Linked DNA regions of Homo sapiens: region 1 is linked to region 2. Evidence: fine-mapped expression QTL. Tissue or cell type: transverse colon. Region 2 holds a variant in brackets; the other region holds the start of a gene. All regions are shown on one strand. Distances are from middle to middle.

Region 1 (8,073 bases), 170 kb after region 2:
TTCTGGACAATGTGCAACAAGTTGTCTAGTCAATACTATATACAATAAAGGGTTGGCATAAAGCCAAAACCCGGCAAAACTGATCTATGGCGTCAGAAGCCAGGACAGTGACTGCCCTTGGACCACAGTGATGGAAACGACGACGGCGGGAGATCCTGGGATGTGGCGCATGTTTGACTTTTTTCTTTGGATACTTGTTTACACCAGGGTGCTCCCTTTATAAATATTTATTTAAGCTGTGTATTTGCAAACCGTTCGATTTTCTGCGTTTGTGGTATTATTCCAGAAAAAGTGTTCAAAATGCAAAATACAAAGATGGCTTCAGGCCCCCGCCGTGCGGTTGAACTGGAGGCAAAAGGCCAGAGAGCAGGAGGTCGGCGCTGGGGCCCAGTGGGACAGGGGAGAGTCAGGAAGGGGCAGCTGGGACGGTGGGGAAAGTCGGGGAGAAAGGCCCCCAGTTTCTGGTCGAGCGAGGGGCATGATCTGAAGATTCATAGGGGATCCCGGGGAGGGGAACTGGTTTTTGGGAGATGAAAAATTGGGGTGAGGGTGGGTGTGTGAGAGAGAGAGATGTGAAGGGGAGGTCTGGGCTGGAGAGGGTTGGGCGTGTCCTGCGGAACGAGGAGAGATTCAGCCTGGGTGGAGGGTACCCAAGGCCAAAGGGGGCGTGGCTGGAGGTGGGCGGCAACAGGGGGCGGGGTAGGGCCGTTGATTTCCCCACCCGGTCTCGGAAACCCGGCCTTGGAGCCCGGACTTCCTGGCTGTGTGACCTTGGGCAAGTTTCTCTTTGTCTTAGCCTCAGTTTTCTCGTCGGAGAAATGGGGATTAAACCTGCCCACCCCCCAGCGCTGTTACAGAGGCGGCAGGCGCGACCCGGGGACGCTTCCAATCTCTGGCCAGCCAATTCTGGCGGGGCCAGGTGGAGTCCTCCTTCTGGTCCTGTGACCTTGGCCCGGGACGCCCAGGCAGAGCCTCAGTTTCCCCATCTGCTAGGCGGTAAGGTCGGTCTCCAAATAGCGCCAGCAGCGAGAGAGGACTTACCCGGAAGGTGCCGGGTTCGAGCCCGGAACGGCCCCTCTGCAGGTGAGGCGGGGGCACCCTCACCTCTCGGCTCTCGGACGGCCACCGCTGAGGCCTCTTGCGGGCTTCCCAGGGCTGGTTACCGTTTCGTTAGGGCTGGACACGTGGCCCACCCCCTGCACCGTCCGTTTTCCGCCCACTTGGGCCCAGCCGTCCAATCGACACTCATCATGCTCTGCCTCGCCGCTCTCTCCGGCCAATCCGCATGTGCCACTGCCTCTGCCCGCAATCGGCGCTCACCAACTCACCCCGCCCCCTGCCTCTCAACCAATCCGCATATGCAGCTGCTTTGCTCCCGCCCCAGGGGGGGCGGTGCCGGCAAGGCTGTCAGTCTCAAGAAAATGATTAGCTCGCAAAGGCGCCGTGGGGGCGGGGCAGCAGGTCGTTCTGCCAATGGAGAGCCGTAGAGGGCGTGAGTGGCGGCCGACGGGGCGGAGTCGCGCGGTGGTCTCCGAAGGCTCAGACTCTGGCTGGAGAGAGGGCGTCTCGGCCGGCCCCATTGCACAGAGCAGACCGCCGAGGCCGGGAGAGAGAGAGAGGGGTCTTACCTAGAGTAGAGGCATGTCTGCGGTTCGAAACCTGGCCCTCTCTCAAGAAACGGAGGCTTACAAAGATACCCAAGCACTTTCCAGGAAGGGGCTGGCTGAGGGAGCGATCAAGTGAGGAATTTGACGCCCCCCTGTCCTTTGCGCTCTGTGCTGCCTCAGTTTCCCCATCTGTACAGCACCTGCCTCCTCGGGTGGTGTTTAGAATAATTTAGACTCTGTGCTTGGAAATGGAGGTTGAGAGAAAGAGAGAATTTCCTATCTGTCTTGGAATAAATCCAAACTCCTCCCAATTCATGGTCGGCCTTCCTGGTCCGTGCAGACCTCGCCTCTCACCACTCCCCCTGCTCACTCCGCTCCAGCCACAGGGGTCTCCTCTTGCTCTTCCCTCAATGTCCCACCGCAGGGCCTTTGCACGTGTGCTGCCTCAGCCTGGAATCCTAGGACTCCCCATGGCCCAACCTTCCAGGCTTTCAAAGCCTTTCCTGACCACCTGGTGTCAGGTAGCCCTTCCATCAGGTCGCTGTTTTTAATTTTTTTGAAACATCAAAAAAAAGAAAAAAATTGCTCTATCACCCAGGCTGGAGTACCATGGTACGATCACAGCTTGCTGCAGCCTCAACCTCCCGGGCTCAAGCGATCCTCCCACCTCAGCCTCCTGAGTAGCTGGGACCACAGGTATGCGCCACCACACCTGACTAATTTTTTAATTTTTTTGTAAAGATGGAGGTCTCACTCTGTTGCCCAGGCTGGTTTTGAACTCCTGGGCTCAAGTGATCCGCCTGCCTTGGCCTCCCAGAGTGCTGCGATTACAGGTGTGAGCCGCCGCACCCGGCCTTGTGTTTTATTTTCTTTTCAGCACTAACTCCAATCTGAATTGGAAATGAATCTTGCTTTTTGAAAAATGCATGGATATACTCTTTTATTGTCTGTTCCCCGCCAAAACACACACATGCACACAGAACAGGGAGCTCCCTGAGGCAGGGGTCCCGTCTGCCTCGTTCACAGCTGAATCCTCAAGTCCTAGACCTGGGCCTGGCCCATAGTAGGCGCTCGATACATCTTTGGGAATAAATGACAGGAGAGCAGACATTAGGCAGAGGTGAGCCTGGGTGAGAGTGAGGGGTGGATGCCCAGATGGGGCTAGGCAGAAGGAAGGGGGAAGGCAGGAAAGCAAGAAGAGGTGGAGGTGGGGCCCCTGGGCCCAGGAGGAGACCCCTGAGGCAGTGGTCTGAAGTGGGGGTCTGGGTTGGTTTATTTTCCCAGGGGCTGCCAGGAAGGGAGTGGACAGGTTGGGGGCTCCTGGAGAGGGCTGTAGAGCCGTCGTGGAGGGGCCTCTGGCTTGTCCTGGGTTCTGGGCTGGGTTGTGATTGGCCTCATGGGGAGCTGGTCCCCCAACCCTCGGGGATCCCCTGAGAATCCCAGGCACGAGGCACCTCCCAGCAGTCCACCCAACCCCAGTCGGGAGCCACGAGATCAGCCTCTTCCCCCAGGGCATGCTGGGGAAGGGGCAGGGGGCCGCAGAAATGTGGGACCTGCCTCAGGTCCAGCTGGCCCAGGTCGCGATGGGACAGACCCGGCGCTGGCAGGGGAGCATCAGAACCAGAGGAGGGGTCCCATGGCATTGAGGCACACTCTGGGGTGAGCGCAATGTTGTCAAAGAGGTCGAGGGTAGAGGTGTCCAGGGCAGCGAGACTCAGGCTGGCGCTGGCATGGGGAGCCTCAGTGGGGGCCACAGCACAGGCCACTCCCAGGAAGGGGGATGGAGGCGGTGGGGGTGGCTTTTGGAGCGAGGGTCTCTGGGGAGGTGCCTCCTGGGACAGGATGGAGAGGGCCAGGCGCTGGGTGGCAGCCTCAATCTTGGTGAACTGCCTGTAAAGACAGATGTGAGCAGGCTGGTCTCTAACGCCTGAACTCAAGCGATCCTCCTGCCTCGGCCTTTCAAGGTGCTGGGATTGCAGGCTTGAGCCACCACCCCCGGCCAGCATATTTGCAAGGGTCACCTATGTGGTCGCATCACACCGTGCTAGTTATTTATTTTGGTGATTCCTGACCGTCCGCCACCCCCATGAAAACACAACCTCCACGACAGCAAGGAACTTTATCTGCTTTGCTAACTGGCCTGGCACACAGTAGGCACTCAATAAATGCACGTTGACTGTTGCTGGCATCCAGCCCTGGGGGCTGCTCCTCTCTGTCTGTACCTGGTCTCCCCCAGCCAAGGGTGCTGGTTGCTCCTTCCCCTCTTCCCCGTCCCGTGCCCACCTTCCCCACCAGCCCCCTCACCTGCAGATCTGGTTGTGCAGAAACCTTCTGTGGTTGGGCCGCCTCTTGGGGGGCCGGGTGCGCCGGGGCTGCAGGGCCCGCAGCATGTGGGCGGCCGCCCCGCTCACAAAGGCACACAGCTCCCGGGGGCCGGGCTCGGAGACCCCAGGGCCTTCGGGGACCCCGGGGTGCATGGCCAGGGTGGTCTGGAGTAACTCCCCACAATATTGCTGACCAAAGCACCCCCCAAATCTGTGAGCAGGGAGGGGCAGGGGACTCTGGAGGCCCAGGCACCCCGGGCTGGGGAGGAGGCAGGGCTGGGAATTGGGCCAAGGCCTCCCCACTGTGCCCTAACCCTGTCCCCACCTCCCAGGAGCCCGACCTGAAGTCTGAGGGAGCGGCAGGTGGGGGCTAATATAGGAAGGCAGGGAACAGGGAGGGGAGGGGGCTTTCTGGGGCCCTCTAAGTGCCCAATTAGCGCATAGTTGGACCTGGGATATGGACCTGGCGTGCGTCGGCGGGGGGCAGAGAATGGTGCCTGGAGATGGCCAATTAAGGGAACAAAGGCCTCGTTCGGGAGGCGAGGCCGCCAGTAAGTCAAATGCAGCGATTGAGCGTGGAGGACCCTTAATTGGAGCCGTGGGGAGGGGGCTGGGAGGGAGGGGAGCTGGGCTGCATCTGCCCACCCACCCTCAGACACACCTGTGCCTCCCTCCCTCTGCTCAGCCCAGCACCTTAGGAGGGGAAACCGAGGCTCCCAAAGGGGCTGGTGCGGGCCGAGGTCTCCAGCCAGCAGGAGGGGTTGGCTCCTGGAGGGTCACCCCCGAAATCCTGGGGCTCATAGAATCCTGAGCAGCAGAGTGAGGGAGGAGAGGGGGAAGGGTGTGGCAGGACGGGAGGGGACGGGAGAACAGGGCGCAGTCTCCCCCAGGGTGTTTTATTGAGGCACTGGGACCCCTGGTGTCTGTGGGAGGCAGAGGTTGGGCCGGGTCCCCTTGTTTCTGGAAGGGTGTTGGCCGGAGCGGGGACCCTGGGTCTCAGGTTGGGTAGGGGAGCACCGGGTGTGACAGCCTCAGTCTCTGCTTGGACCCCCACCCTCGGGGGTCTGCTCTGGGAAGCCAGGATGTTTCCCGAAATTGATGTAACAAATGACCACGGCTCAGTACCTAGAACCGCACGCGCTGATTCTCCTGCCTGAAGCAGGGATTTAAACCTGACATCATGAGTTTGCTTCCCAGGCCCGCTCACTGGCCAGCAGCACTATGGGCAAGGTCAGCAGTTGAGGTCCTACCAGGCCTAGGGTGGGGGCCAGCAGGCAGGTGGGGGCATATTGGGAGCTGGGGCTGAGTGCAGCCAGTGATGTTGCCAGAGGTCCAGTTTCCTGTCAGCAGGACATGGTGAGACCAGCTGCAGTAGGACAGACAGACACCCAGTGCCCTCACCAGCCATGGCACGTACACGTTGACTGCTACCCCTGCCATGCTCAACACTACCACTGTGCTGAACCACTGCACAGGTGGGGCTGCTGGGCCTGGTGTGGCTGGTGTCTGTGTTGGGGACACCATTGGCCTCCCATGTTTCTCTCGGGTGTCTCCAAGGGTCTCCAGCCTCCTAGACAGCCTCTTGTACTCTGCCCCTTGGTCCCTCTGCCTGCCAGCTGTCTGTGACTCACACTAGCCCCATTGCTATCTCTCCATCTCGCCCACCCTTGCTCGTTCCTCTTCTGCTCCTCCTGGCTTTCTGTCCATCCCTGGGTTATCCACAATTCTCTCAACTATCATCTATCTATCACCTGCCTATCTATGGATCTATCATCTATGTATGTGTGTATGTATGTATATATCTATTTTTAGAGACAGAGTCTGGCTCTGCCACCCAGGATGCACTGCAGTGGTGTGATCCTGGCTCACTGCAGCCTTGACCTCTTGGGCTCAAGGGGTCTTTCCACCTCAGCCTCCTGAGAAGCTAGGATTACAGGCACCTGCCACCATGCTTGGCTAATTTTTTTCTTTTGTAGAGATGGGGTCTCACTATGTTGCCCAGGCTGGTCTCAAACTTCTGGGTTCAAGTGATTCTCCTGCCTTGACCTCCCAAAGTGCTGCGGTCACAGGCGAGAGCCACCGTGCCCAGCCTCTCTCCTCTGTATTGTCTCTCTGACTTCATCTCTCCCATTTGTGTTCCGGTTCCTCTCCCTGTCTCTGTCTCTTTCACTGTCTCTGGAGTTTCTCTCAGTGTTTATGTTTTAGACTCTGAATGCTCTTCACTGCCTGTCTCTCAGCTTTTCTGTTTCTGTCTCTCTGTCTTCCCCAGGGCATGGTGTGTGTGTGTGTGTGTGTGTGTGTTTGTGCACGTGTGTGATTGTTACTGGATGGTACTGTGCAGTTCCAGTCTCCTGGTGTCCAAAACAAAGAATTGGATGAGACGCGCACAGACAGCAAAGGAAAGGAGCAAACGTTTATGAAGCACAGTATTCCACTCTCAGAGGGGAGAGCGGACTGAGCTCTCCGAGATGAGATCAGCCCCAGTTTGTTACATTTCATGGCCTTTTTTTTTTAAAGGACTCTTTTTAAATTTTTTTTTTATTTTTTATTTTTGAGATGGAGTCTTGCTCTGTCGCCCAGGCTGGAGTGCAGTGGTGCGATCTCAGCTCACTGCAACCTCCGCCTCCCGGGTTCAAGTGATTCTCCTGCTTCTACCTCTAGAGTAGCTGGGATCACAGGCGTGTACCACCATGCCCGGCGAACTTTTGTGTGTTTTTAGTAGAGGTGGGGTTTCACCATGTTGGCCAGGCTGGTCTCGAACTCCTGACCTCAAATGATCCGCCCGCCTCGGCCTCCCAAAGTGCCGGGATTACAGGCGTGAGCCACCGCGCCCGGCCGTACATTTCATGGCCTTTTATATGTTTTTCATCACTTCCTTAACCTCACTTTATCTCTTGTAAGTTAGTTGCTCATCCTTGCCTAATCTTTCTTTATCTCTTTTGACCAAATTGCTCATCTTTAGCTTTATTTTTCGTGGCCAAACTGCTACTGCAAGTCCTTCTGGCTTATTTTCCTTATCCTGCATGTTCCAACTCACTGCTTCCTCCCTTATTTCGCATGTCCTGCTTCTGCCATTTGACACGTTTTGCTTCTGCTTAAGCTAACCTATGTCCAACGGTCCCCTTCGCCCCCCGAATTTCTCTGCTATTCTCCTGCCTCAAGATGTCCGTGAGTCTGGTTCACGCCTGTGGTATTGGGGGTGGCCTGAAGGTGAAGGTTTCCTGTCCTGTTCTGCTCCAGGTCTCAGGTACAGAGGGAAGGGTCCAGGGTCCCTTGGCAAGAGGCCGAAGGGAGAAGACCCCTGGGTCTCTGGAGGATGGGAAGGGAAGGATTGGCTCTGAGGGCCGGGAAGGGGCCCGCCGCCACGTGGCTGGGGTATGACCTTTGCTACCTTGATACACACTTTATCGTGTGTATTCACATCTGGTAGCTCTTATTTCAAAATTTGCATTCCACAGTCCAGGGGCCAAGAGCAACATCCGCCGGCCAGCTCTGTCCCACTCAGGCCGGCCAGCAATGCACAGGGCGGCCGCCTGCAGGCTGCGGCCTCGGGACTGTCCACCAGGGGGCGCCCACCCGGCCGGTGCTGGGCGGCCCGGCTCAAGGGGTGCGGCCCGAGAACTTGGGGCCCTCTCCTGTCTCCTGTCATTGAGAACAATCAACCACAGCAGGGAGCTGGCTTCATGGGGTCTTTGTTGAGGACCTGCACTTCCAGGTGCTGGAAGGTCTTCCCCAGCCTCCTCTCCCCTATCCCAGCCCTTGAAATTCTGTGTGTGTTGGGGGTGGATTTAGTCATTCAACAAACATTTATTGAGCACCTTGCTTTACTGAGCAGTGGAGGAGGTGAAGTCAGAGAAGCCGAGGGGGCGCGGGGAGCAGACCTGCCGGGCTTTGTGAGCCAGGCAAGGGTTGGGCTATGAGGGTAAGCATGATGGAGAACCATAGAGGGTTTGGGGCAGGGTCTAACCCAACCTTCTTTGCAGGCCTTGCTACAGCTGGAATGTGGAGACCCCACCCTCCAATCCCCCTACAATCTGGATGGGGGTGTCAGGGCCAGGCCAGGAAGCCAGGGACAACCCAGGGTGTGTCCTTCCCTGTCCCCACCTGCTCATCTGCTATCTGCTCCCTCTCATCCAGTCATT
Region 2 (8,073 bases):
AGAAACTTTTGCCCAACTCAAGGTCACTAAGGTCTTCTGTATATTTTCTAGAAGTTGTATAGTTATAGCTCTTGCATTTAGGTCTGGCATCCATTTCAAGTTAATTTTTGTATATGGTGTGAAGTAAGGGTTGAGTAAGGGTTATTTATTTATTCATTTATTTTTAGTTTAGTTTAGTTATTGAGACAGGGTCTTGCTATGTTGCCCAGGCTTGTCTCAAACTCCTGGGCTCAAGGCATGAGCCACTGCGCCTGGCCTATGTGTCCACTTTTAAAGATTTTTTTTTTGGCTGGGCATGGTAGCACATGCCTGTAATCCCAGCACTTTGGGAGGCCAAGGCGGGCAGATCACCTGAGCTCAGGAGTTCGAGACCAGCCTGGGCAACAAAGTGAGATTCCCCCCATCTCTCCAAAAAATAAAAATAATTAGCTGGATGTGGTGGCGTGTGCCCGTGGTCCCAGCTACTTGGGAAGCTGTGGTAGGAGGATTGCTTGAGCCCAGGAGGTTGAGGCTGCAGTGAGGCAACAGAGTGAGACCCTGTCTCAAAAAAAAGAAAAGTTATTATTTTTTTCATTGAATTGACTTTAGCCTCCAAATCAGATATTAAATGTGCAACGTTTTTCTAACTGTTCAGGTACAAAATGAATGCCTTCATCTTTTAGCCTCCTTCATTTGCGCATCTCTCTCACTAAGATGTGTTTTTGGAGATGGGGTGGGGATCACGGTAGAGGGACTCAGACTTTGGGTAAAGCTTGATGATAAAAAGGCCACCTACTTAAATTTTCGGTTTTTGTCTTTTTTTATTTTTTGAGACGGAGTCTCGCTGTCACCCATCCTGGAGTGCAATGGCACGATCTCAGCTCACTGCAACCTCCACCTCCCAGGTTCGAGCGATTCTCCTGTCTCAACCTTCCGAGTACCTGGGACTACAGGCACCCGCCACCATGCCCGGCTAATTTTTTGTATTTTTAGTAGAGATGGGGTTTCACCATGTTGGCCAGGCTGGTCTCGAACTCCTGACCTCAGGTGATCCACCCACCTCGGCCTCCTGAAGTACTGGGATGACAGGCTTGAGCCACCGCACCCGGCCCTGTTTAAATTTTCCACACCTTCCTGTTGACAAGATTGTCAAAACCCTGATATTGAAACCCTGGCCTCTAGGGGGAGATATTCAACGTATTTAACAAGTTTGACCCAGTTAATGACCAGGCCAAATGAAAACTGCAGAATCCTACACTCCCTCTCTCCCCAGACACCAACCCTTAAACCTTGAGGAGTTTGGTTCAAGGGTGGGAAGGTCCCAAGACAGGAACCAAGGATTTTAAGAACCAGCTGCATATCAGCTTTACCTCAAAATAGCTCACTTTGTACATATTCAAATACTTACAGATAAACTAATATGACATCTGGGATGTCCTACAAACTAATTTGGGTTGGGGAGGAGTATGTAAGGGACAGAGATGAGATCAGATTGGCCCTAAGATGATCATGGATGAAGCTGGGCGATGGGTAAGTGAGGCTTCCTCTTACTTTCTCTCCAGTTTTGGGCACGTTTGTGATTGTCTATTATAAAAAGTTTCCAGGCCGGGCGCGGTGGCTCACGCCTGTAATCCCAGCATTTTGGGAGGCCGAGGCAGGTGGATTACCTGACGTGAAGAGTTCGAGACCAGCCTGGCCAACATGGTGAAACCCTGTCTCTACTGAAAATACAAAAATTAGCTGGGCGTGGTGGCACATGCCTATAATCCCAGCTACTCGGGAGGCTGAGGCAGGAGAATTGCTTGAGCCCAGGAGACGGAGGTTGCAGTGAGCCGTAATCGTGCCACTGCACTGCAGCCTGGTCGACAGAGTGAGACTCTGTCTCAAAAAAAAAAAAAAGGAAAGTTTCCAAAGCCAGACATGGTGATGCACGCCTGTGGCTCCAGCTACTCAAGAGGCTAAGGCCAGAGGATCACTTGAGCTGGGGAGGTCAAGGCTGCAGTGAGCTATGACTGTGGTACTGCACTCCAGGCCGGGCAACAGAAAGGGACCCCATCTCTAAGCATACACTTGATCTTAGCCAAAAGGCCGAGAAGCAATGCCCATCTCTAAAAATAAAAAACAAAATAGGCCGGGCGCGGTGGCTCACCCCTGTAATTCCAGCACTTTGGGAGGCCAAGGCAGGCGGATCACCTGAGGTCAGGAGTTCAAGACCAGCCTGGCCAACATGGTGAAACTCTGTCTCTACTAAAAATACAAAAATTAGGCCTGGCGCGGTGGCTCATGCCTGTAATCCCAGGACTTCTTGAACCCGGGAGGTTGTGGTGAGCCGAGATCACGCCATTGCACTCCAGCCTAGGCAACAGAGCGAGACTTCGTCTCAAAAAAAATAAAAATACAAAAATTAGCTGGGTGTGGTGGCACATGCCTGCAATCCCAGCTACTCAGGAGGCTGAAACAGGAGAATCACTTGAACTCAGGATGCGGAGGTTGCAGTGAGCCGAGATCATGCCACTGCACTCCAGCCTGGGTGATAGAATGAGACTCCATCTCAATAAATAAATAAATAAATAAATAAATAAGGCTGGGTGCTGTGGTTCACACCTGTAATCCCAGCACTTTGAGAGGCCAAGGCGGGCGGATCATGAGGTCAGGAGCTCAAGACCAGCCTGGCCAGCATAATGAAACCCCGTCTCTACTAAAAATACAAAAATTAGCTGGGCATGGTGGTGCGGCCTGTAGTCCCAGCTACTCAGGAGGCTGAGGCAGGAGAATCACTTGGACCCAGGAGACAGAGGTTGCAGTGAGCCGAGATCATGCCACTGCACTCCAGCCTGGGAGACAGAGCGAGATTCCATCTCAAAAATAATAATAATAAATACATACATACATATGATAAAAAATTAAAAATTTTTAAAAAGACCAAAATTAATGAATGATAATAAATGGTCTCTCATCCCCTAAAAATCCAAAAAGTATGCAGAAGTGTTCCACTGTGAGAGCCAGTCAGTGGGGCCTGGGCCTCCTGGGAGGAAGGAAGAGGCCTGAGTCCCACCTGGCTGTCTCAGCCACAGAGACCTAAAGCCCGAGAACCTGCTTTTGGATGAGAAAAACAACATCCGCATTGCAGACTTCGGCATGGCGTCCCTGCAGGTGGGGGACAGCCTCCTGGAGACCAGCTGCGGGTGAGTGGGGACTGGGCTCCCGAGACCCTGGGCAGGGGTTTAGAAGCTGGCTGGAGGCTCACATCAGCTCTCTCCCTCAGGTCCCCCCATTATGCGTGTCCAGAGGTGATTAAGGTGAGTGAGGGGCGGATAGAGGGGAGAGGGGTGGAGGCAGCAGTGAGGAGCGATGAAGTCACAACTGGCCTTCCCTTCCAGGGGGAAAAATATGATGGCCGCCGGGCAGACATGTGGAGCTGTGGAGTCATCCTCTTCGCCCTGCTCGTGGTAAGGCGCCCTCACCTCTCCTGTCATTTCTAGATCAATCCCACCTGGTGGGAGCATAGGACAGTACCTTCCATCCTCAGGTCATCTCCTGAATTTATTTATGAATTTTATTTATTTATTTTGAGACAGAGTCTTGCCCCGTCGCCTAGGCTGGAGTGCAGTGGTGTGATCTCAGCTCACTGCAACCTCTGCCTCCCAGCTTCAAGCAATTCTCCTGCCTCAGCCTCCCAAGTAGCTGGGATTGCAGGCGCCCACCACCACTTCCAGATAATTTTTGAATTTTTAGTAGAGACAGGGTTTCGCCATATTGGCCAGGCTGGTCTCCAACTCCTGACCTCAGGTGATCCACCTGCCTCTGCCTCCCAAAGTGCTGGGATTCCAGGTGTGAGCCACTGAACCCGGCCTATTTATTTATGTATTTTGAGACAGAGTCTTGCTCTGTTGCCCAGGCTGGAGTGCAGTGGTGCAGTCTTGGCTCACTGCAACCTACGCCGCCCGGGTTCAAGCTATTCTCCTGCCTCAGCTTCCCGATTAGCTGGGACTACAGGTACCTGCCACCATGCTTGGCTAATTTTTGTATCTTTAGTAGAGACGGGGTTTCACCATGTTGGCCAGGTTGGTTTCGAACTCCTGGCCTCAAGTGATCCACCCTCCTCGGCCTCCCAGAATGCTGGGATTACAAGTATGAGCCATCGTGCCCGGCAGCTGAATTTATTTTATTTTTATTTTTATTTTTATTTTTTGAGAGAGGATCTCTCTCTGTCGCCCAGGCTGGAGTGCAGTGGCGCCATCAC[G/A]GCTCACTGCAGTCTCAATCTCCCAGGCTCAAGCAGTCCTCCCGCCTCAGCCTCCCGAGCAGCTGGGATTATAGGCTCTTGCCAACACGCCCAGCTAATTTTTGTATTTTTCACAGAGACAGGGTTTCGCCTTGTTTCCCTGGTCGGTCTCAAACTCCTGGGCTCAAGTGATCTGCCCACCTCAGTCTCCCAAAGTGTTGGGATTACATGCGTGAGGCCACCGAACCCAGCCCATCTCTCGAATATTTCACTGGTAATGGGAAAGATACTACATTAACCAACAGACCAAGATCCTGGAGTTCCCCCACTCTGTGGGGAGCTAACCTTTTCATTCACAGAACTGTGGGTTAAAAAGATAAAAGAACTATGGGATAGTCTCCAGGAAGAACCCCAGAAAGGAACAAGTCATCCAGGAGCACCTGGAGGGCTTGATACAATGACTGTTTACCAGCTGATTCTAGGGCATTGTGATACTGTAATAACAAGTATAACCAGGCCGGGCACGGAGGCTCACACCTGTAATCCCAGCACTTCAGGAGGCCGAGCGGAGGCAGATCACCTGGGGCCAGAAGTTTGAGACCAGCCTGGCCAACATGGTGAAACCCCATCTCTACTAGAAATACAAAAACTAGCCGGGCTTGGTGGCGCATGCCTGTAGTCCCAGCTACTCAGGAGGCTGAGGCAGGAGAATCGCTTGAACCCAGGAGGTTGAGTTTGCAATGAGTTGAGATCGCGTCACTGCACTCCAGCCTGGGCGACAGAGTGAGACCCTATCTAAAAATATATATATATAGCCAGATCGTAGGCTATCAGCCCTGCTCCTACCACAGGGCCTTTCTGCCTGGGACACTCTGCTACCTATTAGCCTTGTTGCTCACCTAGTTCATATCTAGACTTCTTCAAGCTCTCTGCTCAGTTGTCACATTTCCAGGAAGCTTCCCCTGCCCCCACTCCTCCTCCCCACTCCTGTAAGGTCAGACCCCCCTGTGGTAGGCTCCCTTCTTCCTGGCAACGATCAGAGTTGTCGCTGTGCATTTTGTTGCCTAATTCGTTGAGTGGCATCTCCCTTCCCTTCTGTATCATCAACTCCCTGAGGTCAGGGCCGATGTCTGGGGCATCTGTCTTTGTGTGTTTTATTTCATTTTGCTGGCTTGCCTTTGCAAACCTAAAGTTGACACATGTAAGTCCCCAGTGAACACCTGTAGTGAGAATAAATCAGCAGTTGTCCGGGCGCAATGACTCACGCCAGTAATCCCAGCACTTTGGGAGGCCAAGGTGGGAGGATTGCTTGAGCCCAGGAGTTCAAGACCAGCCTGGGCAACATAGCAAGCAAGACCCCATCTCAAAAGAAAGTTAAGAAAGTAGCCAGGCATTGCCGGGCGCGGTGGCTCACGCCTGTAATCACAGCACTTTGGGAGGCCGAGGTGGGCGGATCACGAGGTCAGGAAATCGAGACCGTCCTGGCTAACGTGGTGAAACCCCGTCTCTACTAAAAATACAAAAAAAATTAGCCGGGAGTGGTGGCGGGCGCCTGTAGTCCCAGCTACTCGGGAGGCTGAGGCAGGAGAATGGTGTGAACCCGGGAGGCGGAGCTTGCAGTGAGCCGAGATCATGCCACTGCACTCCAGCCTGGGCGACAGAGCGAGACTCCGTCTCAAAAAAAATGAAAAAAAAATTAGCCAGGCATGGTGGCACCTGCCTGTAGTCCCAGTTACTCAGGAGGCTGAGGTGGGAAGATTGCTTGAGCCCTGGAGGTCAAGGCTGTAGTGAGCCATGATCATGCCACCGAACTCCAGCCTGGATGACAGAGTGACACCTCGTCTCAAAAATAAATAAATAAATAAGTAATAAGTAGAAAAGAAAAAGAATACATAAGTTTTTTTGTTTGTGTGTGTTTGTTTTTGAGACGGATTCTTGCTCTGTCACACATGATGGAGTGTAGTGGCGCCATCTCGGCTCACTGCAACCTCCACCTCCTGGATTCAAGCGATTCTCCTGCCTCAGCCTCCCAAGTAGCAGGGACTACAGGCATGTGCCACCACGCCTGGCTAATTTTTGTATTTTTAGTAGACATGGGGTTTCACCATTTTGTCCAGGCTGGTCTCGAACTTGACCTCCGCCCGCCTCTTCCTCCTGGAGTGCTGGGATTACAGGTGTGAGCCACCACGCCCAGCCATAAGCAGTTTTTTTAATGTCAGGCACTGTTCTGATCATGTTATTTCACACAATTCCCTCAGCAGTCCCAGGGAGGGGAAGTGACTGGCCCACGGGCACGCAGCTGATAAGCCGCAGGCCTGGGGTCAGTCCTTGGTCTCTTAACCACCAGGCTACATAACGGATACTAAGGGCAATGAGGCCAGCTCCAAGCTGGCTTCCTGGGGCTCACCACTCCATGGGGAGAGCAGCCGAGGTGCTCTGGAGACGAGCTAAGAATGTTCAGAACTCAGCCCTTCTTCACTTGGTGGCTAAAAGCCTGGTTCTGGAGCCCATCCAGCCGAGTTCCAATCCCTGCTCCCTCTCCCTGAGCGAGCCAGTCACCCTACCTCAGTGTCCTCATCTGCACCGTGGAAATACACATCATACCTATCATTGTAAGGGTTTTGTTTTCATTTTTATTTTATCTATTTATTTTTTCATTTTGAGACGGAGTTTCGCTCTTGTCGCCCAGGCTGGAGTGCAATGGTGCGATCTTGGCTCACTGAAACCTCCACCTCCCAGGTTCAAGATTCTCCTGCCTCAGCCTCCCAAGTAGCTGGGACTACAGGCACCTGCTACCATGCCTGGCTAATTTTTTTGTATTTTTAGTAGAGATGGGGTTTCTCCATGTTGGCCAGGCTGGTCTCGAACTCCTGACCTCAGGTGATCCACCCGCCTCAGCTTCCCAGAGTGCTGGGATTACAGGCGTGAGCCACTTCCCCCAGCCCACTGTGAGGGTTTAAATAAATGCTGCACGTGAAGCCCCTGGCACAATGCTTGATGATTATTATTAGTAGTTTATTCTTTTTTTTTTGTTTCTTCTTTTTTTTTTTTTTTTTTTTTTTTTTGAGATGAAGTCTTAGTCTTGCTCTGTAGCCCAGGCTGGAGTGCAATGGCTTGATCTTCTTCGCGGCAACCTCCACCTCCTGGGTTCAAGTTATTTCTGGCTAATTTTTGTATTTTTAGTAGAGATGGGGTTTCACCATGTTGGCCAGGCTGGTCTTGAACTCCTGACCTCAAGTGATCTGCCCACCTCAGCCTTCCAAAGTGCTGGGATTACAGGCATGAGCCACCGCACCTGGCCTAGTAGTTTATTCTTGTTCCAATAGTTCCTCATCATTTGCAGATTCCATATTTGCAAATTTGCCTACCTGTCAAAATGTATCTGTAACCCAAAATAGTCCTGGAGGTGCTTTCACAGTCATTGGCAGACATGCCCAGAGCAGGGGAAACCTGAGCCGCCCACCCAAGGTGCAGGTTTCCGGCTGAGGTCAAACAAAGTGACCCTGTTTCAGCTCTCATCCTGTAAACAATCCCCCTTTCACCACCTATTTCGTGTCACGTTTTTCACATTTTTGTGTTGTTGGTGGCAATTTCGTTGTTTAAAATGGCCATGAAGCCAAGTGCTTCTGAAGTGCCGTCTGGTGTTCCTAAGCGCGGGAGGCTGTGATGTCCCTTCTGGAGAAAGCCCCTCTGATGGGCATGCTTTGTTCAGGAATGACTTGTAGTGCTGCTGGCCATGAGTTCCGCGTCAATGACACAGTACATATGAAAGGTGTCTTTAAGCTGGGTGCGGTGGCTCACGCCTGTAATCCCAGCACTTTAGGAGGCTGAGGCGGGCAGATCACGAAGTCAGGAGTTCGAGACCAGCCTGG

What was found. PIP is the estimated chance that this variant, and not a neighbour inherited with it, causes the effect.
Region 1: C19orf85 starts here. The variant in region 2 is fine-mapped to the expression of C19orf85 in transverse colon (GTEx, PIP 0.95).

Annotation. Positions count from the first base shown.
Region 1 is chr19:55,460,471-55,468,543 of GRCh38, forward strand. It overlaps C19orf85 (chromosome 19 open reading frame 85), which reads right to left and starts at 4,281. Exons shown (of 2, transcript NM_001386794.1): 1 at 3,912-4,281; 2 at 2,531-3,497. The coding sequence starts at 4,084. The coding sequence ends at 3,002. It overlaps ISOC2 (isochorismatase domain containing 2), which reads right to left and starts at 1,172. Exons shown (of 6, transcript NM_001136201.2): 1 at 1,042-1,172. RefSeq lists enhancers at 2,557-3,279, 4,002-4,724 and silencers at 7,383-7,612, 7,623-7,752.
Region 2 is chr19:55,290,970-55,299,042 of GRCh38, forward strand. BRSK1 (BR serine/threonine kinase 1) reads left to right here. Exons shown (of 19, transcript NM_032430.2): 5 at 3,048-3,164; 6 at 3,245-3,278; 7 at 3,360-3,428. Among named protein-coding and RNA genes, the nearest start is that of BRSK1, 11 kb to the left of the region's middle. The variant G/A (reference allele first, on the strand shown) is at 4,223.